Linked DNA regions of Homo sapiens. The protein of the gene in region 4 interacts with the protein of the main gene of each other region in a biochemical or structural test. Each region holds a gene or a part of one and is shown on either strand. Other genes may lie near its edges. The genes, in order: CREBBP, FBXW7, EP300 and SREBF1.

Region 1 (7,372 bases), on a different chromosome or scaffold from region 4:
CATGGCGCCCAGCAGCCCCTTGTTTAATGTGCTTGATAATGAGCCCTTCCTTGGTCCCCCATACTAACAGACCCTTTCACAATAGTGTGATGGTGATGAATGTGTAACACATGACCCAACTTAAGTATGATGTTGACTTTCTACTTTGGATTAAATCGGAGCCATTTAAAGCTGACTTTTGGTCCCACGAAAGAGCCCCTGTGCCTTACAAGGATCAAAATTGTAAAGGAAGGGGGAAAAGGTGGTTAAGTGTGGAAAATCCTTTCTGATCAACTTATTAAGCATCTGATCATCCAATAATGGACACTACTATGGAAAAAGCTAACCTTTGGGCTCCATCTTGGAAACAGCTGGATGTACATATAAGGACATGCCTTTTTGTTAAGTCTTGTGTTACTAATTGTCCCCCTTTTTAAGACAAAATCTACAACAAATTCATTCAACAACAGCAAAGCTACAAAGCCATCCAGGTTACCAGTTTCAGAAGACAAGCTTCAAAGCTGAACTCGCCACGTATGACCTACGTCTCACAGAACTGAAGACTACTCAAACACAGCAAGATTAATGAAGCAACGGAGATCTGTTTTGCAGTACAACGGCATTTAAACTACTGTTTCCAAATTTCTCACTTCAATAAGTTCATTTTATAAGATTAACGTCAAACTCAACTTTTATCAGCTAAAAAGAAAAGCATTAGTGATTTTTATATACCATGAGCATCATTTACTCCTCCCCACTGTTTAACAAATTTTAACTAGATAAGAATCTCCTTATGATTGATCTTTAAAAATCGCTTTTCACTTCTACATTAATATTAAACGTCGCTTATCATAACTTGATTCCAGGAATTGTATTCAAACTTAAGCCACAAAATTCAGGTTTTGTTTCAACAGCAATAGCAGTTTTTTTTAATATGCTAGTGGTCGGTCACAGAACTATTTCCACAAGTTGAACAGCTGTGTCTAGTGCAAATCTGAAGGCAGCGATGTAATTCAATTTGGACTCATTCATTAGAAACTGATTTTCAGATGCTACCACTGCAAGACTACTGGAGAAATGCAAGCTGCGCTGGAGATGGAATTGTTCGCAGCGGCACACAAGTTTTTGCGGCAAAGGAGAGAGCTCTAAAAGAGGAAATACAACTAGTTCATGTTACCATGAACCAGCGCAGTGGGACCCAGAATTACTGAATTAATAGAAAACTAAATACTTCTCTTAAGCAGCTATGATAACTTAAGAAAGTTTCCAGGGAAGCCGTTTAATGAAAGGAAACAAACAAAAAGATGATTTATTCAGTATCCTGCTCCATTTTTTTGAAAAATTGGAATTCCTACATTCCTTAATTCTTTGTACATCTACACTGTGAAAGCAACACAAACTCAAATGGAGATTGCAGCCCAAATGAACTTAAACCTGCTGTTTAACTTTCTTTTGAAGTTATACATGGAAATGAAACACACCACAGCAACTTTCATGACATCTTGCTAACGAAGTTTGGGTTTTGAAAAATGGAATGACTAGTTGACTAAAAACACACACGCGCGCACACACACACACACACACACACACACAAAACAAGGAGTTTTGAAAATAAGCACTAAGCATCTTTCCAAGGAACTCACTCATTCCAAGAAACTTCGGTTCTAACTCGCAAGCTGGCGGCTGCTGTGAGTGTCCTCTGAATGCAGCCTGGTCAATGTGTCGCCAATCCAGAAAACACACTGCCCTACCTTTGGCCGCGATCTTGCTTTCTCTAAGCATCAAAGGTACCCTCCGCTGTCATTCCTCTGGACGGCCACGCGTGTGGACACGGCCGCGGATGGATGCGTAGGACATTACCAAACAAACCCACACGCTGCACTTTACTTCTTCCCTCCTGGAGTGCCACTAGGGTCCCCGCGAGGAGGGCTGATCGGGTGCGGGGAGGCCGAGTGCACCGGGCGTGTGCTGACCAACTCGGGCCCAGTGACAGTCCTGCGACGAACTTCCACCCTCCCGCGCGGGGCGAGGGGAACGGGCTGCGGGGCCTGCTCCGAGCTCCCGGCTCGATCGGTATCCGCGACCACGACCCCCGGACGCTCTCTTTCAGGTGGGGGTGACAGCGCGCCCCGGGCCCCCGCCGCCCCGGACCCCCTCCTCACCTGTGCTGTCATTCGCCGAGAAACCGGGCGAGCTGAGTTTGGCTCTTTTGGGGTTGGGCGGTCCGTCCAGCAAGTTCTCAGCCATTTTCACCTGCTCGCGAAAACAGCCCCGGGCACGGGCGGCCGGGCCGGCGAGGGCCCGGACGGGGGTCGGGGGCCCTGCCGGCTGCGAGGGAGAGGAGCGAGCGCGGGCCGCGAGCGGGCGGGCGGGCGCCGAGGGAGAGGGAGGGCGCAGGCCGGGTGGGGGAGGCGGCGGCCAAATCTCAGCCACAGCAACAGCGCCCCGCAGCGCTCACCGCCCGCCCCCGGCCGCCGCCGCCGCCGCCGGCCGCGGCCCCCTCATCCCCTGCCCGCCTCCCGAGCGCGACACTCCGCGGTGGGGGCGCCCCGGCGGCCCGGCCGCCCCCCCGGGCCCGGCTGGCAGCGACGGCGCCCGGCCGGGCGGCTCAGGCAGTCCCCGAGAACATGGTGCCGCCGCCGCCGCCGCCTCGCTCCCCCCCCGCGCCCCACTTAATGAATTCGCTCGCGGCCCGACGACGAGGGGGCTCCGGGCTCCGCTCCCGGCCCGCGGCCCGCCGCCGCCGCCGCCGTGAGGAAAAACAATGCGCCGAGCGGGGTCGCCGCCGCCGCCGCGGCCCCCCCACCCCCCGTTCCGCCGCCGCCGCCGCCGCTGCCGCCGCCGCCGCCGCCGGGCTCCGGGAGGCCGAGCCGAGAGGCGAGCGGGGCCGCCGGGGCGGGCGCCGAGGGCCGGGCGGAGCGGGCCGGCCGGGCGGAGCGGGGTGCGCGGGCGGTTGTGGGGCCCGGGACCGGCGGGGCCGAGTAGATCGCGCTCGAAGCCCCGGTCGGGTCCGCGACAAGATGGCGGCTGTTGATTCCTCAATTAAAAAAAAAAGAAAGTTTTTTTTCTTCTCTTTCCAGAGCCTGAACGGGGAGGGGGTGGGGGCGGGGCACGCCGGTGCGTCACCCCCCCGCGGCGTCACCACGCACGGCCCCCGCCCCGCCCCCTCCACCTGCGCCGGCCGTGGCGGAAAGAGCCGAGCGTGCTCGGGCCGAAGGGCTGAAGGCGCGGCCGCCAAGCGTAGGGAAGCTGGCGGCCCGGCGCGGGCCAGGCCTGCGGGGCGCCTGGGCTCCGGGCTGAGCCACAGCTTTTGTTCTGATGGCGACCAGGCGTAGAGGGCCGGGGCTCCGGGCCCCAGCGGGCTCCGGGAGCGGCGGCCTGGCCGCGGGCTGGGCTCTCGGGCGCGGATTCGACGCCAGCCCGGGCCCGCCCGTCCCGCTGGGGCGGCGCTGCGTGTTCCCAGCTCCTCGCGTCCCCTTCCCCAGACCCTCCTAGGTGGCGTCGGTCGGGAACGGTCGGGGCGACCCCAGCCCAGGCCGCGCCACTAGCCTTCGCCGCCGGCCAGGGAAGTGGAATGGCCTCTGCAGGTTACAGACCGCCCTTGGGTCCTGCCGACGAGGTGGGCGGATGGGGAAACTGAGGCGGGGGGCGAGCAACTGCTCCAAAGTGGTCGAGGCAGGAAGTGGCAGGGCCGGGATTCGGGTCCCGCCCTACCTCGTGACACTAGGGAGTGAGGGGGCCTCACGCCTGTTCGCATCCCAAGGCGGCAGGGCAGACACCCTCACCTGTGAGAGCGGGGTGGCGAGGGCCGGCCTGGGCGGAGAAGGGCCCGCGCATCGGGGCTTAAGCCTGGACGCTCAGGCCGCACTCCCCGCCCCAGGCAACTTGCCTGGCGCCTCGCAGGTGCCCCAGACAGGGGTGCGGGCCTGGGGAGTCCCCCACGCGAGACCACAGCCCGCGGGACACTTCTACGAATACCCGAGGTGTTCCCATCCCAGTTAGTTATCTGCCCCTCCAAACTTGCCCGGCTTCCTCATAAAGGTATCAGCAGCTCCACTGTTTCCTAAGCCAGAAACCCGTGAGTCAGCGCGGACTCCTCCCTCTCACCCGCCACGCGCCCCTCTACCCACGGTCTTTACCTGGGAGACTGCTCCTCCCGCACTGTCCCGGTGGCTATGGTGGCAGCTACTCACTTAAGTGTTCTTTGCTCTCCACGTTGCTCCCCACGCAGCACCAGAGTTAACATCCCGAAAAGAGAGGGAGAAAATCTGTTTAAAACAACTCCCTGGCCAGGCGCGGTGGCAGATCACCTGAGGTCAGGAGTTCAAGACCAGCCTGGCCAACATGGTGAAACCCCATCTCTACCAAAAATACAAACATTAGCTGGGCGTGGCGGCGTGCGCCTGTAATCCCAGCTACTCGGGAGGCTGAGATGCGAGAATCACTTGAACTGGGGAGGCCAGTAAGCCGGGATCTCGCCATTGCACTCCATCCTGGGCGACAAGAGTGAAACTCCGTCTCAAAAACAAAACAAAACAAAACAAAATCCCAGACATAGAAAAAGAAAACACTACATAGTCTTTCTTTAAAAAAGAACACGTATGAATTCTCTTAAAAACATAGGTGTATGTACATATGGTGACTGTCCTTGAGTGTCAAGATTGAGTGATCGTTCTGCTTTTCTCTGTTTACCTGTACTGCTCAAAATCTTGGGCCGTGATACCGCTCTTGAATCTGTCTCTTCTACTTTACATGGCTCACTTCACCATCATCATCCTACACCCACTTGGCCAGTAGGCAGTTCACATCATTCAGGCTTTTTTTTTTTTTTTTTCAAATGCTGGTCCCTGTGCTGAGAAGACATGCCTGGCAAATTCTAACTCATCCTCCAGAACCCAGTTCAAATGTCACCTACTCCAGGAAGCCCTCCTAGCCCACTCCTCGGCTCCCATATCACTTCTGGGCTCTGTGAGAGAACACATAACACATCCTGCCCCATCTTCCCCGCCTCCACTGCCCCCGAATTAGTTCATGTTTTTACTTATGCATCAAATAGCTCTTGAGAATCCCAAGGGCATTGAGACTGTGCTAATCCCCTTGGCCAAACATAAAGAGATCCCCATATATTCAAGGAGTTAAAATAGCACACCCTGGAAGCCATAAATGGAAGTATTCAAGAAGTCAGTTTGCACAGGAATGGCAAGAAGTGTATCAGTGGCACAGGGCAGGCCACACCCTGTATCTGAATGCTCTGGGTGTCCGTCTCACCAAGGGTCTGTGAGCTCCTTCGGGGCAAAGATGGTGTCTTAGTCACAGAAACAGTGCTCTGCAAGAAGAAGTAGGTTTGTAAAACTGAATGAGTGATGAGCTGTGTCAGGTGCTCTGAGTCCTAGAGGCCTTCAGGCCACTGAAAAGGGTGGGCCCCAGCCTGAGGTGGCTCCAGGCCACTCTTCAAACGGGACAAGGTGTCCAGCCACCTAGAGGTCTTAGGGCCTGCCTTGGGGCAGTGGAGACACCATGCAGCCCCCCAGGGGTCCATTGGTGAGTGGTTTACACAGAAGTGGGCACAGGAGCTTGAGCCATTCCCTGACAGGTTTCCATTTTACAGAGGAAAGCAAGGGAACTCAGTCGCAAGGACTCAGAAGTAAATAACCCGGACATGGCAAGTCTGGGCCTGGAACCCATGTCCTCACTCTCCAAAGACCCTAGTCTTCCTGTCTCACCATGTTCCACCCTCAAAATATACCGGCTCTGCAGTCCCTTTTTCTGTCTCATTGTTCTCACCTGTATCATTTTGATCAATTCTGGTATTCACTGATACCTGTTTTTTCTTTCCTTTCGATTTCTTCTCCCTTCAGTCTGACTCAAAGAACCCTGAGCTCAGACACTGATGGGGGAATAGCAAGGAGGGAAGCGTGGCTCCTGCCTGCACTCACTTAGCTGGGGATCACCTTCAACAAGTGAGTGCCTTAGGGATACCAGGCCGCTCTGCCATGCCTCCCATGGATAGCACTTCCTACAATCCTGGAAGGAAAAATTGTCCTCATTTCACAGATGAAGAAATAAGGCACAAAGGAGGACAAGCCACCCAGCCACGAAGGGGCTTCACTCCGGTGCACACCTAAGGCTTCCTGCTCTTTCCACAAACCTCACCCTCTCCAGTCTCAGATACCACATTAAAAAACAATCAAAGGACTGGGCATGATGGCTCATGCCTGTAATCCCGGCACTTTAGGAGGCCGAGGTGGAAGGATCTCTAGAGCCCAGGAGTTTGAGACCAGCCTGGGCAACAGTGAGACCCTCATCTCTACAACAAAATGTTAAAAAGTGAACTGGGCGTGGTGGCATGCACCTGTAGTCCCAGCTGCCTGGGAGACCAAGGCAATAGGATCACTGGAGCTCAGGAGGTTGAGGCTGCAGTGAGCTATGATCAAACCACTGCACTCCAGTCTGGGCAACAGTGAGATACTGTCTAAAAAAAAAGAAAAGAAAAGAAAAGAAAGAGAAAGAAATGGAATTGGAATTGTTGGCTGGATGCGGCGGCTCACGCCTGTAATCCTAGCACTTTGGGAGGCTAAGGTGAGTGGATCACTTGAGGTCAGGAGTTCGAGACCAGCCTGGCCAATAAGGTGAAACCCTATCTCTACTAAAAGTACAAATAAATGGCTGGGCATGGTGGGGGGGCACCTGTAATCCCAGCTACTTGGGAGGCTGAGGCAGAATTGCTTGAACCCGGGAGGCGGAGGTTGCAGTGAGCCAAGATCGCACTCCAGCCTGGGCAACAAGAATGAAACTTCGTCTCACAAAAAAAAAAAAAAAAAAAAAAAGAAATGGAATTGTTGCAATTTGATATTGATTGTCCCTTTCTAGGCTTAAATAGATTAAAAGATAGCATCAGGTTTGGACTTTGCCTTCAAGCGATGCAGAACAGCATTGGGGAGAAAAACACAAACAGGACACACATTGAAAAGATAAGCAGAGAATCCAAGTCAGAATAGCACAAAATCATAATAACTGATCCCCCAGGGGTGGGAGTCCCGGGGTTGGGGGGCAGAGGCCTGGGGGAGTAGTCCCAGGAAGGCAGGATTCCAGCCAGTTCCTGGTGGACAGAAGGCAGAATGTGGTCTGGTGGTGTGGAGGGATCCAGACAGAGCTAGGTTCAAGTCCCAAACCTACTGCTTTTTCTTAGCTGTTTTGAAAACAAATACCTCGGCCAGGTGTGGTGGCTCACACCTGTAATCCCAGCACTTTAGGAGGCCAAGGCGGGCAGATCACCTGAGGTTGGGAGTTCGAGACCTGCCTGACCAACATGGAGAAACTCCATCTCTACTAAAAATACAAAATTAGCCGGCCTTGGAGGTGCATGCCTGTAATCCCAGCTACTCGGGAGGCT
Region 2 (6,911 bases), on a different chromosome or scaffold from region 4:
GTCCCAGCTATTTGGGAGGCTGAGGCATGAGAATCGCTTGAACCTGGGAGGCGGAGGTTGCAGTGAGCCAAGATCGCTCCATTGCACTCCAGCCTGGGTGACAGAGCAAGACTCTGTCTCAAAAAAAAAAAAAATACCGTAATTTTTAACCAATCCATAAGCAATAAAAGTAGGTCCTAAAGTTAGTAAGCAACTTTGACAGAGTGCAACCTACATTCAAACTATAGTTTGTTTCTTAGTTTGTCCTCCCCTCCTTCCCAAAATACAGCTTCTACTGTATTTTGGGTACAGTATTTTAGAAAATGACTACATTTCTCTTTGCAATATCTTAGTGAAAAACAGAATACGTGACTCTGATTCTAACATTACATCCACTATTCAGTATTTTCATGTCAGTACACATTTAAAGGACAGAATTTAAAGTTCCTTACCAAAGCATAACAAGGCAACTAAAGAAAAACAATTCAGTGGGAGAAGTTCCAGAGGAGGGAAAAGTGGTCAAATGAAAGACATTATTCTAAGACAACAGTTGGAGAAACTGATGGTAGAAATAATGAAAGTCCATAAAATTAAGAAAAGATGAACTGAGGCTTGTCCTGATAATTCTTGAAACACAAACTCTGACTGTGTCCTGAAAGTTTAGGGACACAGGTATGGAATATGTAAATGAACTGTCACATAATACACAGGCTAATAAACTTGCAGAACTCATTACTTTAAAAAAAAGGACCAAACATTGTTAAGTTTGAGAAAGTTTTAAATTAATCTAATCAAGATCCTGAATGGAGAACTTCGAAAAGAGAGATAACCCCAGGCTTACATTCATTCCCACAAAGTATCTCTCAGCAGTGGCTTCAGACAGAACGAGCCCACAGTTGTCTAGACGGACCACAATTCTCAGTATACTACTGTCTATGTCTTCTTACATAAAATTCTGCTCTATGTTTAACCCTTAAGGTCTGTATATGAAATATTAATTACTTTCATAAACCTTTAATTTGGTACTCTGACAAGATACCTAAAATACAAGTCAAAGGTTTTATAAACTTCAGCTTTAAAATAATGGAAGGAAAAAATCATTCCTGACTTAAATATCAAAGATGTATCCTAAATTGATACAGAAATAAAGATAATTCAAAAAAGCAAAGCCTCAAACCAAATAAAAAAGTGCTGTAATTTGTTACTCTAAAAAAAAAAAGGGGGGGGTGAAAGGGAAAAAATCACAACTTTTATAAAATGATTAATGTGATAAATGCTCTTCCCCAAGTAAGTTGTGATTCCTAACAACTCAAGTTCCTGAGTAACTGACATCTGTTACAGTGTCCTCCTGACACACATGAAATTGGACCCAGTAACTGAGAAGGTTAACTCCTGTACCAATAGGTACTGAAATGAACCTCTCTCAAAACAGGTTTGTTGTTGTTTTTTAAAAAAGGAATTTTACTTTCAGGGGTCCACAGGTTAAGTAGTTCTCATTCGGGAACCTATATGAGAGTACCCCCGAAACAAAAAGTACACCGCACACACCCACAGTACCAGGAAAAGGTTACAGATACAGATGGCCTCTGTGCGCACATATGCTCTGGCTTCCTCAATTTCCCTTTGCCAACTGCTGGCCAGAAAGGTGCGAGTATTCACTTTGGAGAAAAGACTCCTCCGACAGAAACCTGCATACTTGCATTACTCGTACAAAGAGCTAAAAAGTTACAAAATACAGGCCTCCCTAACACCTTCCCCCCTCCGTGAATAAAGCTAGACTCCCTCATTGATAGACTCCCAACACTACTGGAGAACATCAGCAAAACTCCAGGAGGAAGCGCCGGCATCCTCCCACTTTCTCCCCCTCAATTCCCTCTCCCGGGGCCACTCACACTTTTAGAAAAGAGCCGCGGCGCCGAGAAAGTGGGTTGGTTCCCTTCCTCCTTCGGACTGAAGCGGCAGCTGCGGAAGGCTCCGGCGCGGTACTGAGGAAGAAGCGGTGCTCGTGTCGCTAAACCAGGCGGCAACCCGGGTCTCTTCCGCGCTGCCAGGGGAGGGGAGGCGGCGGCCCCGCTTACCTCCTCTTTTCCTCTTCCTGGGTCTTTTCAGGCTGCGGCTTCTGCCCGTCCAGGGCCACTTCTCCCGGGACAGTCAGGTTTGGGAGACTCCGGATTTTGTTTTTGTAAAGTTTCCTCTGGGTGGAGGCTGCGGCCGGCCCCCCGGGTCCCCCCCGGCCCCGCCGCCCTCGGGACTGGGGCGGGGGAGGGGGGCTCTAGGAACTCCTCCCGGAGTCCAGCCAAGGAGCCGGGGGGCCGGCGACTGGCCAAGGGAGAAGACCCCCGGAGGGGGCTGAGGGGAGGGGGAAGGTGAGGAAAGGACGGCGGCGTCGGTCCTGTTCTCTCCGCCGCCCCAGCCGCCGCTTCACATCGGGGTCCCCGCCCCCCCGGCCGGGGGGTGGTTGCCGAGCTTGGTTGGGGCCCCGGTTCATACACTCCGGGGCAAGATGCTACGGCCCCGGGCGGGTGGCCGAGTCGGCGGCAAGGCGAGGGACCCGGCCGGCTCCGCTCGGCGCCGCCCCCGCTCCCGGCTCCCGCATGTGTCGCTGCGGCTGGGACCCCCCTCCCTACACCTTGGGGGTCTCGCCCCACGCCCCACGGGACGAGGCAGAAGCTCTGGCGCCTCCTCAGCGTTCTCTCACCGCGGAGCAGCTACCCACTCCCGGCCCGTGGTAGCCGCCTCCCTGCCCCCCAAGCCGCCGGCTCCGGCTCAGGCTCGGGCTCCGGCTCTGGCTCCGGCTCCGGCGTGTGCAGCCGCCGCTGCCGGCCGGGAAGGTGAGGGGGGGAAAGGAGTGCGGCCGCGGCTCCCGCTGGCCCAGGTGAGAGCGAAGGTCTCGGCGGCGGCCAGTGCAGGGGGACTGGATCTCTCGGATGCTCCTTCGCTCTCAGTCTCAGCGGCGGCGGCGGCGGCAGCGGCAGCGGCAGCGCCCGGAGCTCAGCTCGCTGTCTCCCTCGCTCTGTGCGGGGCTCTCGCCTCACTCCAGAGAGAGGGGCGGGAGGAGAGCGGCGCCTGCCGATGACGCAAGTCACCTAGCAACCGCTCTCTTCCCCCTCCCTCTTCTTTCCGCTCTGAGGCTTCCTCCGCTGGCCTTTTTCCCCCTTCCAGCCACCCCGCCCTGGGCGCCTCTGGCGCGCTCTGATGACGCTCCAAGGGAAGAGGAAGTGGGGATCGGCGAGCGGGTGGGTGCGCCTCGGGCCGCGGGACTCGCAGCCGCCACCGCCGCTGCCGCCTCTACGGCCGCGTCAGAACTGAAGAGAGGAAGGGGAGGAGCCGAGTCGAGCCTAAGCTGCCGCCCGATCTTACCCCTGACCCGAGGGCGGCCTGGAGAGCTTGGTCTGTAGCGGTTTCCTTCGGGGCAGGTGGGGACTGCTCCTTTGGGAGGAAGGAGGAGGCCCAGGCCGCGTCTTCAGGCAGCTGCGCGCACCACCCGAAGGTGAGGCATTTGGCCCCAAACAGACCCTCGAAAAGCCGGACTGATCGAGGAGTTACCCTACAGCCTGATCTGCACCTGCTCCAGGGAGAGAGCGCCCCACCCTTCCCGTGGCGTGGGGTGAGACCCAGCGTTGGATAACGTGTGGTCGGGCCGAGCAAATGTTTGATGAATGAATGAATGAATGAATGCCTCTCTCACGTGGCACTCGTGAAGCTCAGAGGATATGGTGGAAGTGCAAGCGCTTTGTAAACTGCAGTGCATTGTAAAAATGAGTTGTAATACATTCCTCCCCTCCCCCTAGCCATGAAAGGAAACAGGGGTGCGGCTTGAGTACAGAGTCACAACCTGAGTCTTTAGTGGAAAAGGAGACGAAATGCCGAGCAAGGGAAGGGACCCATCCTCGCGCAGATTGTTAGGGCGGCGGGAAGGGAGGATTGGAAGGGAGCCATCCTCTGGGAGATTGCTGAAGGATTTTTGACTGTCAGGGGAAGAATTTAATAGTCCCTCACTTTTACGAATGGTTCTTTCTTACGGTTTGGAGCTTTCGAGAGCTTCTGGTCTTGGTTCATCAGTGTACGTTGTCATCAAGAAATGTTGGCCTGTTTCAGGTCTGACTCAAAGGTTATTTTCTTTCTAAAATAAGTGTTATTACTATTATGCAGCTTTTCCTACAGATGTTATCCTGGAAAGGAAAGTTAAGTAGAAACTCATGAAGTTTAAAGTGTAGTTCTCTAGGAAAACAAATTTAAGATAAAAGGACCAGAATCCTCAGAAATCTGTCTTCAGTGAATAGTATGAGAAAAAGATTAAAGCAGCAGCAATGATGAAAGCAGATTCCACAATTCTGTCCCTGGACCCTAGTACACTCTACCTCCTTGGGAAGCAGTAGTAATGGATTTTACAAGTCTTTCCACCTGGAGGAGGGGGTAAGGTAGGAGCAAGTGTATTATAGACAAATGTGGGAAGCTCTGGGTTTCTCCCACTACTGCCACTACCATCTGCAAACAGTAAACTAAGGAAACTTTTAACTGGGTAAATCCAAGGGCTCGTGTTCATTAAAATGCTGCGGGAAAGGTGGTGAGAGGGGCAAAGGAGGATGTGGCAAAACCAAGGAGAGACTCACAGACTAGCACCTGACCCTACTGCCCTTGACCTGAAGTTCCAAGAGCCAGGTTAAATATCCTGCTTAAATTACCCTGGATTTTTCTGTCTTTACGTGACCAATCCCCTGCTACAGCCTTCCAAATAAGACTCACAGGTAATCAGACCAACAAGTGATGGTCTCACATGGCTACAAAATAAATATTTTTTGTTTTTCCCCCTCTTCCTATCTTACAACAGGGGAATGGTGGAAATTAAAGGAGTAAAACACACAGATTTAGGGGATTTTGTGAAGCTAAACACCTCAGAGAGTTTAACCTTTGTAGGCTTTGAAGGAAAAGAGTGCAAACATCAGAGTTCTGCAGCCCAGCAGAGAACACCTCCAGTTAAGTGTGTACCACATAGGGTTTTTCAGCAGCGTGATCTTCTGTTTTCATTGTCAGTGGCTCCACCTTACAACCTCAGTGCTGAGGAACAGAAGGGCACTCAGGAGAGCCTGAGCCACTTACTTAGAAAGTATTTAATAACAGCACACTAAGCTTACTGGGCTAGATACCCACCTCAGCACCCAGCTTGATAACAGGAGGAAACAGCTGGAACTGGAGACTGGAGAGAAGGAAGTTCATACATTTCCAACTTGGTCTGCATCTCTTTAGTTCCTTGTATTGCTTATTAATCCAGAGGAGAAAACAGCTAGTTAATTAAAAATTCCAAAAAATCTGAAGTTTTAGCTAATAGTTACTTCCCTGGTTCATCAATTTAAGATAAGGATCTAAATACTGTGTTAAAATATAGAAAAACGGAGACTCTTATAAGGTTTTTGACCTCTACACTTGAAAGTGAGCTCTTACAAGAAACTAATCAGTGTTTCGTTATTCCATATCAGTGGCTTTTACTGTCAAAGATTGTGTAAGCTAAATTATCTGGCAAAATTTTGCTTTCCAGAAATACTATCTATATTAATTTTAACATTTTTATTGTGAAATATAGTTTAAATACATAAAGCAATTATATAGTATAAGTGATTATAAAGGAAACCACCATGTAACCAATCAACCAGGTCAAGAAATGGAATATTTCCAGCAACTCAGAAGTTCCCCTCCCTGCCATGACCTTCCCGAACACAACTCTTTCCCTCCCTCCTAAGTGTAGTCATTATTCTAACATTTGTGATAATCATTTCCCTGCTTTTCTTTGTCGCTTTGTCGCAAGCATGCATCCCTAAACAATATATTGTTTAGTCTCACTCTTTCTTTTGAACTTTATGTAACTGGAACAATATAATATGTAATCTGTTGTTCTTGCTGCTTTTGCTCAACATTGTTTTTAATTCATATGTTGTTCAGGTTGTTCCTATAGCTGTAATTTGTGCATTTTCATTGCTGCATATTACAGTGTCCCATTATAACAATATGTGACAATATGTTTAGCCATTCTATTGCTGATGGACATCTGGGTTGTTTCCAGTTTAGGATTGTTATAAATGCTAATGTGAACATTCTTCATATATGTATTCCATCACATCTACGTCAGTTTCTGTATAACATATACCTGGGAGTGTAATATGTATCATAAACTTGAATAAATAATGCCAAGTTCTTTTCTAGAGGGTTACACAGTCACACTAGGTATATATGAGTCCCATTGCTCCACACCTTCACAACACTTGACATTATTGGTCTTTTTGGTTTTGCCAGTCTGGTGGGTGTATGGTAATATATCATTGTGGTTTTAACTGTCATTTCTCTGATTACTGATGCTGTTGAGGACCTTCTTGTATACAACTAGCTATTTGGATTTACATTTTTGTGGCGCGTTAGTATCTTTTCAATGTCTAAGTCTCTGAGATGCCCAACTTTTCAATATCCTTTCATAGTCCACATTTGAACAGGTAAAGTAATGTTATGGGATGTTTAGGGTGTCGCTTTTCTGGCCAGAAACCTCTGTAGCCTGTGGCGCCTTTGCACAAGTCTTGCTCAGGCCCACTGGGCTCATTCCACCTACTTGGCCTGGCAGGCTGTGCTCAGCTTATGCTACCGGCCTGGATCCCACACCTGCCAAGGGCAAGTACGGCGTGGAGTGGCAAGGCATGTGTGAGCGAGCGTGAGGTCTGGCTACTGCGCAGTCAGACACACCAGCTGCTGCAGTGGGGCGGGCAGCTCCAGATGCACCAGCTCTCTGCAAGGCTGTGGCTGGACCAGGCATACTGCAAGCAGCTTCCACAGCTGGCACCAGGGAACACATTGGCACCCGGAAGCTTGGAGACGCCAGGAACTGCAGGGACCCAAAGAGGGAGTCACAGTGTTGGCTTGGGGAGCTCCCAGGTCTGGGCTCCCCAAAA
Region 3 (7,023 bases), on a different chromosome or scaffold from region 4:
GAACCAGCAACTATTTCATTGATAACTATCATTATCTGGCAGTGTGTGGGGATTTCAAAGATGTCTGCTTCAGAGGAGCTCACATTTATACAGAAATGAGTGAAAGAAAATAAGAAAGACTGGCTTGTTTTTACCTTCTCACCAGAGAAAGTTTCAAAGGTACAGAAAAGGAGACAATAAATATAATGATGTCCCAGAGAGTGGCTGTTTTGAATCGCTAGATTCTAATGAGATAAACTGGCATTCCCTATCTTTATCCTAAGGCTTGTCATAAGAAATCTCTTAATGAGAAGTCAGTATTTTCTGGAAGTATCCTTGATTTTATAAAGAATAAAATCAAGCAGATCCACTGGTTCCTCTCTCATTCTGTCCTTCCTTGTCTATCAGAGGCCACGATGAACCAGCCATCCGTCAAGTACAGTACTTTATAAAACGGCTGTGACTCATGGAACTTCTCAGTTCATCAACATGGCTGAGAACTATTGGATACCGATATATATTAATATCGGTATCAAAGTAGAAGCTTCTAAACCCTTAAAAAAAGTTCTATTAATAAGGATTCAACTATTAGATGAGAATTTGGATTTTTATTATATACATAACCAACCTCTCACAAGGAAGCTACAGGTTGTTCTGGGTCTATAATTCTCTCATCTTATTTTTAAACTTTGGTTTGGGCCACAAGGACTCATAAATCTGCAATTTTTTTTTTTTTTTTTAGACGGAGTTTCACTCTGTCGCCTAGGCTAGAGTGCAGTGGCGCAATCTCGGATCACTGCAACCTCCACCTCCCAGGTTCAAGCCATTCTCCTGCCTCAGTCTCCCGAGTAGCTGGGATTACAGGCACCCGCTACCATGTCTGGCTAATTTTTGTTATTTTTTTGTAGAGACAGGGTTTCACCATGTTGGCCAGGCTGGTCTTGAACTCCTGACCTCAAGTGATCTGCCTGCCACAGCCTCCCAAAGTGCTAGGATGAAAAGTGTACACCACCGCGCCCGTCCAAATCTGCAATTTTTAAATTCAATCTCTAGGTTTTATGGCTCAAACTGTTTGAAAAAGATTCCTTAAATATATGTAAAATTTATGTGCTGCACTAAATAATATACTAAATAAGGAGAAGGATTGTGTCCCCTTGTCGTACCCCTTTACGTACCTTCAGACCTCAGGGTACAACATGAAACATAATGGTCAAAGTCAGAGCTAAATAAAATCTTTATGCTCCTGCTACGATAGGTACTATCACAGGAAGGCAAAACAGGATACAAAAGTCCCTAATGAAAAATAGATTACATTCTACTTGTGGAGAAAACAGTAAGAGATAAAGCAAAAGAGAATGGAAATGGCCCAGAAGTAATATAATACTACAGTATAGCTCTAATGATTCTGCCTAAATCCAAATCTCTACTTACTGGAGTTGCAGGCTGCGGAGGAAGCAGCGGTGCTGTTGGGGTAGGAACAGACGCTGCTGTGCTCTGCTGTGAGCGAGGCTGCTGCTGGGGCTGGTCAGCAGAAGGTGCAGCAGGAAGTGAAGGCTGCACTTGTTGGGGAAGTTGTGTTGTTGGTGGTGTAGGTGTCTGCCTTGGAGGGGGATGTAGAGCCTGGGACTGTGGCCCAGGTGGCATGGCAGGAGGTGTAGGAACAGGGGCTGGAATTGTTGTTGCTGGTGGCTGCTGAGCCCCTATGCTTGGGGGAGTATGGTGAGGGGTGGGGGTACGACTAGGTACAGGCGAGGGTGAATTCTGATGAAGAGCTGGTTGAGGAAGCTGGGGACAGTGAATGTGGCTCCCCTGAGACCCTGGAGGCATTATAGGAGAGTTCACCGGGCAGGAAGAACTAGACATTTGTGCCTGTTAAAATAAAAAACATAACAAGACAGCAATTCAGAACAGAATTAAGGAAATACTTACATAGGCATGATATATAAATTTAGGACACAAACTGATTAAACAAAGAGTAGCAATGTGTCTATTTCAAAATGTGTAAAATACCCTATTACTGGGCATGTATCTTTGGACAGCACCATCAAGATAGTACTTAACTAAAGAGACTTCAAACCATTCAGCAGAATGGCCTCAGCCACCGCAGAAAAATGGCAGAATTGAGTGCAGAGTGCTCTAGGGCCTGCCTATGCTCTTTTCAGCCAGATTTCCTTCTACATTGTGTTTAATTCTAAGATTTATTTTAAAGTGTTCACTAGTAAAAACAATTAAAACTATCCATTTAAATTATTTCCTACTTTGTAACAATTAACACCATTGCTATGTCACAGAATAATCTCTTCATGTTCAGAATACCCTAAGTCCAAAATTGTTATTTTTTAAAAAATCATCTGTTTTCACCCACTATTTGCTGCCACTCTCTCCTATAAAAACCTACATCAAGAGAAGTTTCAAGAATCAAAAATAAGTGAAAAATCCACTTATGAGACATACTTGAGACACTGGAGCTTGACCGCTGGACGGAGCCAAAGGGATATTTGTTACATTCATTCCCTGTGATGGGAACTGAGTCTGAGGAAGGAACTGGCCCTGGTTGGAAGGCTGTTGCATACGAGGCCCATAGCCCATAGGCTGAAAAAAAAAAAAAACACAAATCACCAAACTGCTTCATTATAGTTATTCTACTATAACTAAAATCATCAAATGCTCCTAACGTCAGGCTTATTAAGTAGAGAAAAGCCAAAGACAGGAGTATAGGTGAAGAGGGCTGAAGAGGAGAAGGAAGAAAGTTGTAGAACAACTGACTCTTGTGCCAAGATAAAGAGAAATAGCCTCACAGTTTACCTAGGCCTACTCCAAGAAATAGTAAGAGGATGGAACACACATTCTCTTGGTACACAAATATGCCTAGCACAAGGATAGCAGGTAATTTTCTTTGCATGCTCTGTTAAGTGAGGAGAGTTAATCACAATTTCATGAGGTCATGTCAGTGATGTAATAACACAAATTCTAAGACCCATAATATGTAAAAACAAGAAAATCTTACAAGTTGTAGCAGAATCTGGTAGCATTCATGGTCCACAAATGCTCTAGCACTGTTACATGTCATTTCCAAAATTACCCTACACAAATTCAGGCCTTAAAGAAAGAAATCTCGAGTACCAAAGGCCAAAAACTTCATAAGCTAAGACCATCTGTCTTATAGGTTAAAATGAAGGACAGAACTCCCTGTTGAAAATGGCAGATTAGTGAGAAGTAGTAATGCTCAGGAACCCCCAAAAGGGTCAAGAATCAGAGGCACCAGCTAACTCTAAAGGGCAGCAGGAGGGTTAGGGTCAAGGTAGAGAGATGGACTGGTTAAGAGTTCGCATAAGGAGCAGGAGAAGCCTAGTCTCTCTTCTCCGAGTTCAAGAACCAGGCAAAAACGCACCATCAACCTTGCAAGACAGTTCTCTGCCTGGAGGAGGGAAGACAGACATCAGGGAAGAGAAGTGACCGTGAAAACGCATGCAGGCCACTAAACACTGACACTCCAGGGACAAGGGACTGGCTGTTTTCGTTTTTTGGTCAGCTTTCTAGTAGAGTTAAATACAGAAGAATTACAGAAGAACTAGGAGTTATGGTCTGTTTAAATGACTGTGAGAATTTATAAAGTAGGAACAAACAGGATTTTCAAAATACCAGGTAAAGGCCAAAGAGATTACCAAAGACGTCAAACTAACCGGGTTGAGAGCTCCAGGTTGAGCCAACTGTCCATGGTGCTGAAGAGGAGGGGTTTGCCGGGGTACAATAGGGGGCTGGGCCATGCTCATCTGGCCAAATTGATTCAAACCTGTGAATATGAGCAAAATGTTAGATCTGAATGCCTTTGTGAAATTGAATAATAAAAGATAGAATTCTTATGTCTGATTCTGTATCTTTTTTTTTTTTTGAGACGGAGTCTTGCTCTGTCGCCCAGGCTGGAGTGCAGTGGCGCAATCTCCGCTCACTGCAAGCTCTGCCACCTGGGTTCACACCATTCTCCTGCCTCAGCCTCCTGAGTAGCTGGGACTACAGGCGTCCGCCACCACACCCAGCTAATTTTTTGTATTTTTAGTAGAGACGGGGGTTTCACTGTGTTAGCCAGGATGGTCTCTATCTCCTGACCTTGTGATCTGCCCGCCTCAGCCTCCCAAAGTGCTGGGATTACAGGCGTGAGCCACCGCACCTGGCCCTGATTCTATCAGGACTAATAAACTGGCTTTCAACCTTCTAAGTATAAATAAATCTGTCTCATTCACAGTAGCAGTAAACAGACATTATCAACTAACAGGATCTCCAAACTGAATTTTACAAATTTTACAATCTGCTTTTTTTTTTTTTTTTGAGACGAAGTCTTGCTGTCACTCAGGCTGGGGTCCAGTGGCGCGATCTCGCCTCACTGCAAACTCCGCCTCCTGGGTTCAAGTGATTCTCCAGCCTCAGCCTCCAGAGTAAATGGGATTACAGGCCCGTGCCACTACAACCGGCTAATTTTTTTGTATTTTTAGTAGAGACAGGGTTTCACCACATTGGCCAGGCTGGTCTCGTACTTTGACCTCAGGTGGTACACCAGCCTCGGCCTCCCAAAGTGCTGGGATTACAAGCGTGAGCCACCATGCCCAGCCTGCAGTTGTTTTTTAATGGATACTTGATCATTTAATGTCACCTGCCCTGTGATCTGCCAGCCAACCTGCTCTTCACCCCCTCTTCCTCTATGGGCAGGTAATCATGACACTTGCTGTTGGCATAAAGCGGGTGTTCAGGTAGCAAGTATTATCTTGCAGTACACCGGGGATTCTTTTAAAATAAAAAAATTTTTTTCACTATTTACCAGATTGTGGAGTTATTCGAGGCATCATCTGGTTTGGCACACTGCCACGGATCATACTTGGGTCAGGTAGAGGGCCATCTAGAGTAAAAAAGAGAAATAAGTATCTTTGCACCATCTTCCCTTAACCAAACAAAAACTCACTGCACACACAAACCCCACAAAATATTTTTAATAATACCTTTGAAAATTGAGTATGAATCACAAAATAAAGCTCTGAACTAGACAGAAGCTTGAAGAAAATGTTATTTCTGGAATACAGAAAAATGCCTCCAAGTGGATTTGTTGGTATTCCTTTATGAGCCCGGGTGCTTTCAATGTTGATAGAAAAATAAGCTATTGAAGCCATTATAGGCCAGGCACAGTGGCTCACGCCTGTAATCCTGGCACTTTGGGAGGCTGAGGTGGGTGGATCACTTGAGGTCAGGAGTTCAAAACCAGCCTAGCCAACATGGCGAAACCCTGTCTCTACTAAAAATACAAAAAAATTAGCCAGGCGTGGTGGCAGGCACCTGTAATCCCAGCTACTCAGGAGGCTGAGGCAGGAGAATCGCATGAACCTGGAAGGCGGAGGTTGCAGTGAGCCAAGATCACACGACTGCACTCCAGCCTGGGCGATGGAGCAAGACTCTGTCTCAAAAAAAAAAAAAAAAATTGAGGCCATCATAGCATTTAATATGTTATTGTTTAACAAAGTCTGAGTCTGGTTGGCATGCAACAGAGTATCTCCATGGATAATAGCTATGAATCATGTCTAATGGTGGCCGAATTTGATCATGTAGCACAACGTTTTTATGCACATAAACTGTGAACATTGATTTTAAATAATATGCATATTATACCACACTACATATCATGTACCTCTTAAATACAAAAACAGAAATAATTCTTAAAAAAATAAAATATCCTGTAATCCCAGCACTTTGGGAGGCCGAGGCGGGCGGATCACGAGGTCAGGAGATCGAGACCATCCTAGATAGCACGGTGAAACCCGTCTCTACTAAAAATACAAAAAAATAGCCGGGCGTGGTGGCAGGCGCCTGTAGTCCCAGCTACTCGGGAGGCTGAGGCAGGAGAATGGCGTGAACCCGGGGCATGACCCCGGGAGGTGGAGCTTGCAGTAAGCTGAGATCGTGCCACTGCACTCCAGCCTGGGCGACAGAGCGAGACTCCGTCTCAAAAAAAACCTAAAATATAAATACATAAATTCTAAGGTCTTTTTCCTGGATTATCTGCACATGCTCTAGTGTAGTACTTTCAACATAGTGCACAGAGAAAATATTTTTACAGCACCCTCGGAAAGGACAGATGTCTGTAGTGACCTGGCTCCACCCTGGCCATACCCTCCATCAAGGGCTGTACATTCAAGCCTCAGGCATAGGAGAGGAAGACCTGCTGCTCTTCTAAGGAGATGTCCATCCCTTCAGACAAATTTCAACCTTTAGTAAATGAGCAAAACTGAGAGAGGAAATGCTCAACATTTATTCATATAAACTTTTATCTGTAACTCTGCAAGCTTTATAAGAAGTATATGCATAATCCATGCTCATTACATAAAAATTAAAAATCAATAGAAAAATGAATCAGGATCCAACAAATGACCTTGAGATAAACCTTTCCTCTTCCTCCCCACACATATCTGTATTCACGCACACTATCTACAAAACAATGTTTTCACCTAAGATATGAGTAACTTTTTTTTCAAGTCAACAATATGGATAGGTGTTCCAAGCTAAATGGCAAGTGCCAAGCAGCTAATACCAAGTAAAACTGTTTTAAGTACCCAAAACAATAGAGAATGGTGAGGACTGAAGTGGAGAGAAAACACAGCTCTTCTAGAGTCAGCCATGAGTGCAGCTATAGACAGGTGTCACTGTAGGAGAAAGGGGGTCAAGTCTGCCAGACATGTCCTTTTTTTTTTAAAGCAGCCAGAAATTCAGACTTTTTAAATGCAAAATCTTCTGATTTTTAAGTATTTGAGACTAATCAAATGAAAATGGTTTAAAAATAAAACCGCAATCCTACTGCCCACATTTGCCCCATATGATGCAGATACGAATGTATCTATTATTGCTCCATGAGGCAGCTCTTGTCATTTTAAGGAAACTTGATGAATTATTTAAAGGAACATCTTGATACTATTTTTTAAGATAAATATTTAAAGGCTGGGCGCAGTGGGTCACACCTGTAATTTCAGCATTTTGGGAGGCCGAGGTGGGTGGATATCTTGAGCT
Region 4 (7,023 bases):
CTGGCGGGTTCCCCTCTCCCCACCCTAGTCTCAGCCCACACACAAAGTCCACAGACTGAGTCACGCACGTGCAGTCATGTATCCCACAAATGACAGTCACCCCACTGATTCCTTGTGAAAGGAATTGTCATCAGGTAACCATCAAGAAGATGCTTGGTCTTTTTTTTTTTTTGAGACAGGGACTCTCCCTGTCACTCAGGCTCACTGCGGCCTCCAACTCCTGGGCTCAAGCTGTCCTCCCAACTGAGCCTCCCAAAGTGCTAGGTGTGAGCCACTGCGCCAGGCCTGTCTGTCCCGTCTGACACACACACAGCCTCCCTTGGTATCACATCCCATGTGCGCCCTTCCCTGCTGAGCAGACAGCACATCCCTGGTCAGCAGCTGCCCCCTCACCTCCTTTGCCACCGGGGCCTGCCCGCCGCCTCAGACTGCGGTCGAGGAGCTGGTGTGTCCGTGTGGGGCTGGCCCCCGCCATCAGCCGGGCCGTGGCCTCATGTAGGAACACCTGGGGGCCAGGAGAGTGGAGGCTCAGGGCTCTCCATCTCCACCACTGCCTGACTCCCCGTCTTGAGGACAGGGCCATCGGGCACTCACCCTCCGCATGGCGGGCCGGAAGCTCTGTGCCAGCCGCCTCAGGCTGCTCAGGTCCCGTTGGAAGCCACGCAGCTCAAGGGCGGAAGCCTGGGGCCTGCTGCTGGTGCCCTGGGCTGCTGGGGCCGGGGCCGGGGGCTGCTGCTGCCGCCACAGGCTGGTGCGCACCACAAGAAGCAGGTCACACAGGAACAGCTGCACGGCCTGGGGGTGGCAGGCAGGGCAGGGGTCACCAGGGCTCCAGCTCTGGGAGGGGCAGGATGGGGGCCCGTGGTGCCAGGGGCCGGCTCCGGGCTGCACTGCCGAGGCACTGCACCCGCCTCACACACGTGCAATGCAACAGCAATGCACCGCGGGGCCGCCCGCCTCTCTCGGCCCCCACACCCGCCACCGGCCCGGGAGCAGCTGTCCAGCCCTCCTGATGCAGGGCCTCCAAAGGGATCCTACCACACCATCCACCCCCCTCCTCCCAGGGATGGGGAAACTGAGGCCAGATAGGGGCAACCCCTCTCCTCTGGACAGAAGCCTTAGCCAAAAAGCAGGGTCTGCTGGACCCCCTATCCTGTGCTGCTTGGGCTAACCCCATGGTCTTCTGCAGCCCCTGGGGGCTGGGGAGAGGAACCAGGGAATGGAAAGCTGAATCCCCCAGCCCTGCCAGGCCCCTGACCCCACCCCTCACCTTGTCAATGGAGCTGCTGGCTGGTGTGGTAGCCAGGCTGTCCTGCAGGTACCCACTGGCCTTCTCACAGATGGTCAGGCTGGCTGGACCAGACTCTGCCTTGGCACAGCCCAGCAGGGCCCGGGCAGCCTTGAAGGAGTGCAGAGCTGCCCTGGGCAGGGGTCTCCTGTTGGGACCAGGGCAGAAGAGTGCCAGTCAGACCAGTCCACAAGCCCTGGCTGAGTGCCCCCCACTTCCCTGGCTCGAGTTCCCTGAGGAAAAAAGGTGGTGACTCCTCCTGCACAGAACAAAGGCTGAGTGAGGCACAGTGCCCAGGGGATGAGGAAGGCTGAGCCCGGGACCAGGCAGGAGGAACCTGCCGTGCACTCACTCAGACTCCTGCAGCACCCGGGGCAGGTGCTCCACCAGCGGGCACAGCCGCTCAGCCGCCTCCTCATCCCGCCGCAGCCAGTGGATCACCACAGCTGTCAGAGAGGCCCACCACTTGGCCACCGGGTCTACGCCTGCAGAAGAGGGAGGGTCCCCTGAACCCTCAGTCACGCTGCACGGGGGAGCTGAGAAGGGAGCCAGGACAGGGGCCGGGGACTCACCGGTGGTGGTGGCCATGCTGGAACTGATGGAGAAGCTGTAGGCAGGAGCCCCCGCAGCATCAGAACAGCTGTTCAGCAGCTGCAGGTACCCGAGGGCATCCGAGAATTCCCTGTGGAAGGAGAGAGCTGGCTGTCGGAACAGATGGCAGGGGTCCTAGGAGGGTGCTCCCCACCTGCCCTCCAGAGTACAGCCTGGCCCCTGGCTCTGCAAAGTGCCACTGTCTCCTCCCACAGGCTGGTGGGGAGAGGAAACTCAGAGAGGAATGAAGCGTGCATGGCACGCACGGTAGCCCAGCTCTGGGCTCTCTCCACAGGGTTGAGGCCAGAGCTATTCTCAGAATCCCGCCGGAGGGGCCTTGCCTGGAGGAGGGCACAACGACACTTACTTGTCCCCATCAGCTGACCCAGGGCTGGGGTTGGGCTGGGTCACACAGTTCAGTGCTCGCTCTAAGAGATGTTCCCGGAATAGCTGAGTCACCTGGGCCAGGGGGTCCACTGTGGAGAGGAGGAGGTGAGTGGGGTGGGGAGCAGGGCCCCACCCTCCTCTCCAAGCTAAGGGCTTTTTCCTGGGTGGGCTGGGGCCACACCTAGGGCCACTGGGAAGTGCCGGCATGCCCCTGGGTGCAGCCCCTGCCAAGGACAGGGGAAAGCGGGTGGACATAACTATCACCAGCACCAGCCTTGGCCAGGAGACAACACTGAGGCCTGCCCTACACTGCTTCCAAAGGAAAACCGACTTGAGAAGATGCCATTGTTGGCTCCGCTTCCTTACTCCACAGCGGCACTGCCTGGGGTCACTTCTCCAATTAGCCATCTGCCCATCAATCCCTGCATGTGCTTCTGAAAGCCCCAATGGGAACGAGAGGCACCCAGGCCTTTCCCTTCCTGCAACCCCCACAGCAACAACCCATGGCAGGGAGAAGGACTGGGGTGGCCAGAGACAGCCAGAGATTCAGGCGACAAGGGACAGGACAGGAATGAGGATGAGGGACAGGAGAGGGGACAGGGAAGGGGTAAGAGAGCACCTGGGTTCCCGGCCAAGCTGTACAGGCTCTCCCATGGGGTACTGAGCACGGACCAGTCCCCATCCACGAAGAAACGGTGGCCCACGGGGTGGCAGAGCCACTGCATGGCAGGAGGCACTGAGCCACTCTGTGCCAGGCAGGCCTGGCGGGCACTGCTCAGGAAGAAGCGCTGTAGGGGAGGGTACTGGGCTGTCACAGTGGACACAGCCTGGGGCCAGACCCCGGGCCGAGTCCCAGCTTGGCCTGGAGTCCCCCTGGTAACCACTGCCACATCCCGTGTAGCTCTTACCCAGGGAGCCTCTGGAGAGAGCTGCAGGGATAAGCCCCCAGCCCCCCAACCCACTCACTGTCAGAAAATGCAAGGCCCGTGGGAGACTGGTCTTCACTCTCAATGCAGCCGCCACATAGATCTCGGCCAGCGTCGCCACAGACACGGCATCCCCTGCACACTCTGCCAGGTTCAGGGCACTCAGCGCCAGGTTGGTGGCAGTGAGGTGCCCGCCTGTGTGCTTCCCTGGAAGGCAAGCAGGCATGAGGCTGTGGGTGGAGCACAGGCAGCAGGGAGCACCTCGGAGCCCGCCCCACGCTCAGTCCTACCCATGGTGTGCAGCTGGTGCAGCTTATGGTAGACCAGGGCTGCGTCTCGGGCGCTGGCGCTAGCATCCACTCGCAGAGCACAGTCCTGCTGCAGGCCCCCTGCCCGGCCTGCCAGCCAGCGGCCCACCCAGAGACGCTGCAGCAGGTGACGGATGAGGTTCCAGAGGAGGCTACAAGCCAGGTCCAGGTGGGAGGTGGGCAGGGGCCGGCCCAGTGCCCGCAGGGCCAGCCACAGCTGCTGGGCAGCCTGGGCAAAGTCTCCCTGTGGATGAGGGTTTTCCAGGTGAGAAAAGTGAGGTCAGAGCAGCTGCCCCAAAGCTCAGAAGAGCCGTCCACAGCAGGCTCTGGAGGGGTGGTGGGGGTCTGCGGATGCGTGGCTAGGCACAGGGAGGACGGGACAGATTCATGGTGTGCACAGGGAGCAGGAACAAGGGTTGACACCCAGCACCTTCACAGCCTGGGGTCCCTGCCCTGCCCACTCTGCCGGGGCCAGCCCCTTACCCGGGCCAGGTCCAGGTCAGCCTGCTTGCGATGCCTCCAGAAGTACACGGCGGGGCCTGAGTGGGGCCGTGTGACTGGCTCACCGTAGACAAAGAGAAGCACCAAGGAGACGAGCACCAACAGCCCATTGAGCAGCCAGACCACTGGGGGCAGCAGCCACTGGGCCCAGCCAGGGCCATCTATGGACAGAGGGAAAGCTGGGGACACAGCTCCCAGGAAATCCAGAGCCCCAAGTTCACAAGCCTGGGGGCTCACCCCGAGTGTCCCTCCCAAAGATGCCCAGGCTGGCCGGTCCCACCTCTGCTCTCGGTGCCCAGCACGTTGCGCCCAGGGCTATGGTAGACGCTGGTGGTATCTGAGGGGCTGGGAAGCCCCCGGGCCCCCAGCAAGGAGGCCAAGGGGTTGCAGGACAGGCAGAGGAAGACGAGCGTGCACAGGGCCAGGCGGGAGCGGTCCAGCATGCCCCGGCTGTGCAGAGACGGCCGCTGCTCTGGCTTTGCCTGGTGGGGTTGGGCAGGGTGGTGAGGGCAGAATCGGAGGGACCCCAGAGAGCATGGGGCTGGGAAGGGGGGGGTCAGGATTCTGCCCACCTTACTGTGGGACCCCACGTGGCTCCAGGCCTCAGTTATTCTGTCTATGAAATGGGAGGTAGGATCTGTTAGGGTCTTCCCGGCCCTGTCATGAGGCTCAGAGGATATGGCTGGGAGTGGGGAAGGGGGCACCGTGGCAGGGCCCAACCTTGCTGTCCTCAAAGACTGGGCTGTCAGGCTCCGAGTCACTGCCACTGCCACCGCTGCCACTGCCCCTGCTGCCAAGGGACAAGGGGCTGCTCTGGAAAGGTGAGCCAGCATCCGAGGGGGGTGGGGTCAGTGTGTCCTCCACCTCAGTCTTCACGCCCTCCATGAGCACGTCTGTGTTCCCTCCACTGCCACAGGCCGACACCAGATCCTTCAGAGATTCTGTGGGCCGAAAGGAACAGAGCCAGGAGTAAAGGCTGGATATGTGACCCCAAATCAGAGCCTAGGCCCTTGGAGGCCTAGGGACTACTGTAGCTCCTAAAGCTAGCCCAGGACGCTTTGATGGGGCTGGGTTAGGGCCAAAGGGAGGCACCAGGTCTCTTTCAGGACCAGAGGTAACCAAGGGACTAGAGCTGAATGCAGGGCTACAGCCAAGGGTGAGGTGGGCAGGGCAGAGGGTGGGCCAGAACCAAGGGTGGGGTGGGGCTAGGGATGGGGTGGGGCCGGGAGGTGGAGCAAGGCTAGAGAAGAGGCCAGACTGGAGCTCAATAAAGCCAGGACTCACTGCTTTTGTGGACAGCAGTGCGCAGACTTAGGTTCTCCTGCTTGAGTTTCTGGTTGCTGTGTTGCAGAAAGCGAATGTAGTCGATGGCCTTGCGCAAGACAGCAGATTTATTCAGCTGCACGGTGTGGGAGGGAGGGGGAGCGCACAGGTGGCCTGTCAGGTCGGGGGTTGTGGGGTTGGAGAGCCCTAGCAAGGGGGTGCGGAGCTGCTTTGCAACATTACTGCCTCAGGACCTTTGCACTTGTTCCTTCTACCTGAACCGTTCCTCGCCTAGTAGCACCCACCTCCCAGGCCGGGCATAGGGTTAGAATGTAAGATGCAGACAGCAGGGTCTGGCTAGCTGCTGCTGTGCCTGCCGCCATCTCAGGGAGGCCTTCCCTGGCTACCACCAGGGGACCCTCACCATCCTCTTCCTGCTTTCTCTGCAACGAGCCAAACGTGGTGGTCTCGAGCACTTATTCATCCTGCCTACTGTCCATCTCCCCCACCAGAAGGTCGGCTCTTCTTTGAGGGACAATTTTTGTCTGTCTTGTTCATTGCTGCATCCCCAATGCCTAGCACAGCCCCACCTTTATTGAAGAGGCCTGCAAACCAGTTTAACTAAATAAACGAGGCTGGCCAGGCCTGGGGAGGCTGAATTCCAATTCCCTGCTTGTCCAGGCTCAGTCTCACTCCCTCTCTTCCTTCCAGTTGCCCCTGATCTGTTCCTTCCTAGGGACACCCCGGTCTGTGCCCCTGCAGGCCTCTCCACACCTTTGCCTCAGTGCCCACCACCAGATCCTTGAGCTCAATGATTTTGTCATTGATGGAGGAGCGGTAGCGCTTCTCAATGGCGTTGTGGGCTGTGCGCTTCTCTCCACGGCTCTGGGCAGAGGCCGGGGCCTTGCTGCCAGCTGCGAGCCGGTTGATAGGCAGCTTCTCCGCATCTACGACCAGTGGGACTGTTGCCAAGATGGTTCCGCCACTCACCAGGGTCTGCAGGGCCAGGCACATGTTACCAGGTGGGCATGTGTGTGTGTGTGTAGACCCCACTCCCTTATGCCCTGCCCACGTCACCCACCGGCAAAGGCCCTGTCTGCACAGTGGTGCCAGAGACCAGGGGACTGAGACCTGCCGCCTTCACAGTGGCTCCGTCTGTCTTCATGGCTGTCAGAAGCAGCGAGTCTGCCTTGATGAAGTGGGGCTGCAGCAGGACCTGAGGGTGGGAGAGGCTTGGCTGTAAGCTGTGTGTCTGGGCTGGGGCTGCCCCCTCCCCAACCCCTGGCCAGACCCCCTCACCGGGACCTGCTGGATCTGCGAGGTCACAGTGGTCGTTACAGGGGCTGCCGTGGGGGCAGCTGTGACTGTCAGTAGCTGCTGGGGGACCACACTCTGGACCTGGGTGTGCAAGGAGACGGGCGGGACCCCTGGCGGGGAAGCCAGTGGCAGGCCAGGCAGCGGCTGCTGGGTGTTCCCGGGAGGGCTTCCTGCAGAAATAAAGCATGGGGCTGCAGACACAGACCTCCCTCTCCCACTTTCAACCTGCTCTTCAGGTCTCTATCACCGACTGGCCTTGGATGAGTCATTGCCCCATGTGGCTTCCTATGGACAGTCCCTGCCTGGGCTCTGATGCAAATGCACTGGCTTCAAGCCAGGCCTCCAGTGCGAGGTTGCGCCTACCCCGGCAACAAGCACACCAGGACTGCTAGTAACAGGGCATCTCAAGCAGCCGAGTGGAGCCCCAGTTTCTAAAGCCTGC

Evidence for each region.
Region 1: the proteins of SREBF1 (region 4) and CREBBP form a complex in vitro, tested with the Homo sapiens proteins (5 studies listed by BioGRID, with this or other methods).
Region 2: the proteins of SREBF1 (region 4) and FBXW7 form a complex in vitro, tested with the Homo sapiens proteins (3 studies listed by BioGRID, with this or other methods).
Region 3: the proteins of SREBF1 (region 4) and EP300 form a complex in vitro, tested with the Homo sapiens proteins (3 studies listed by BioGRID, with this or other methods).

What each region holds. Positions count from the first base shown.
Region 1 is NC_000016.10:3,877,691-3,885,062, forward strand, and holds the start of CREBBP (CREB-binding protein), read right to left. Parts: upstream 3,024-7,372; 5' UTR 2,227-3,023; coding exon 2,142-2,226; intron 1-2,141. UniProt on the Homo sapiens protein: Acetylates histones, giving a specific tag for transcriptional activation. Mediates acetylation of histone H3 at 'Lys-18' and 'Lys-27' (H3K18ac and H3K27ac, respectively).
Region 2 is NC_000004.12:152,533,070-152,539,980, forward strand, and holds the start of FBXW7 (F-box/WD repeat-containing protein 7), read right to left. Parts: upstream 3,024-6,911; 5' UTR 2,058-3,023; intron 1,965-2,057; 5' UTR 1,872-1,964; intron 1-1,871. UniProt on the Homo sapiens protein: Substrate recognition component of a SCF (SKP1-CUL1-F-box protein) E3 ubiquitin-protein ligase complex which mediates the ubiquitination and subsequent proteasomal degradation of target proteins.
Region 3 is NC_000022.11:41,144,586-41,151,608, reverse strand, and holds part of EP300 (histone acetyltransferase p300), read right to left. Parts: intron 4,871-7,023; coding exon 4,793-4,870; intron 3,773-4,792; coding exon 3,663-3,772; intron 2,572-3,662; coding exon 2,434-2,571; intron 1,849-2,433; coding exon 1,411-1,848; intron 1-1,410. UniProt on the Homo sapiens protein: Functions as a histone acetyltransferase and regulates transcription via chromatin remodeling. Acetylates all four core histones in nucleosomes. Histone acetylation gives an epigenetic tag for transcriptional activation.
Region 4 is NC_000017.11:17,812,975-17,819,997, forward strand, and holds part of SREBF1 (sterol regulatory element-binding protein 1), read right to left. Parts: intron 6,752-7,023; coding exon 6,564-6,751; intron 6,481-6,563; coding exon 6,346-6,480; intron 6,261-6,345; coding exon 6,039-6,260; intron 5,401-6,038; coding exon 5,286-5,400; intron 4,943-5,285; coding exon 4,722-4,942; intron 4,618-4,721; coding exon of another isoform or gene 4,574-4,617; intron 4,484-4,573; coding exon 4,282-4,483; intron 4,163-4,281; coding exon 3,984-4,162; intron 3,745-3,983; coding exon 3,483-3,744; intron 3,400-3,482; coding exon 3,233-3,399; intron 3,055-3,232; coding exon 2,886-3,054; intron 2,356-2,885; coding exon 2,247-2,355; intron 1,971-2,246; coding exon 1,861-1,970; coding exon of another isoform or gene 1,774-1,860; coding exon 1,641-1,773; intron 1,437-1,640; coding exon 1,271-1,436; intron 958-1,270; exon of another isoform or gene 862-957; intron 796-861; coding exon 595-795; intron 572-594; exon of another isoform or gene 506-571; coding exon 394-505; intron 1-393.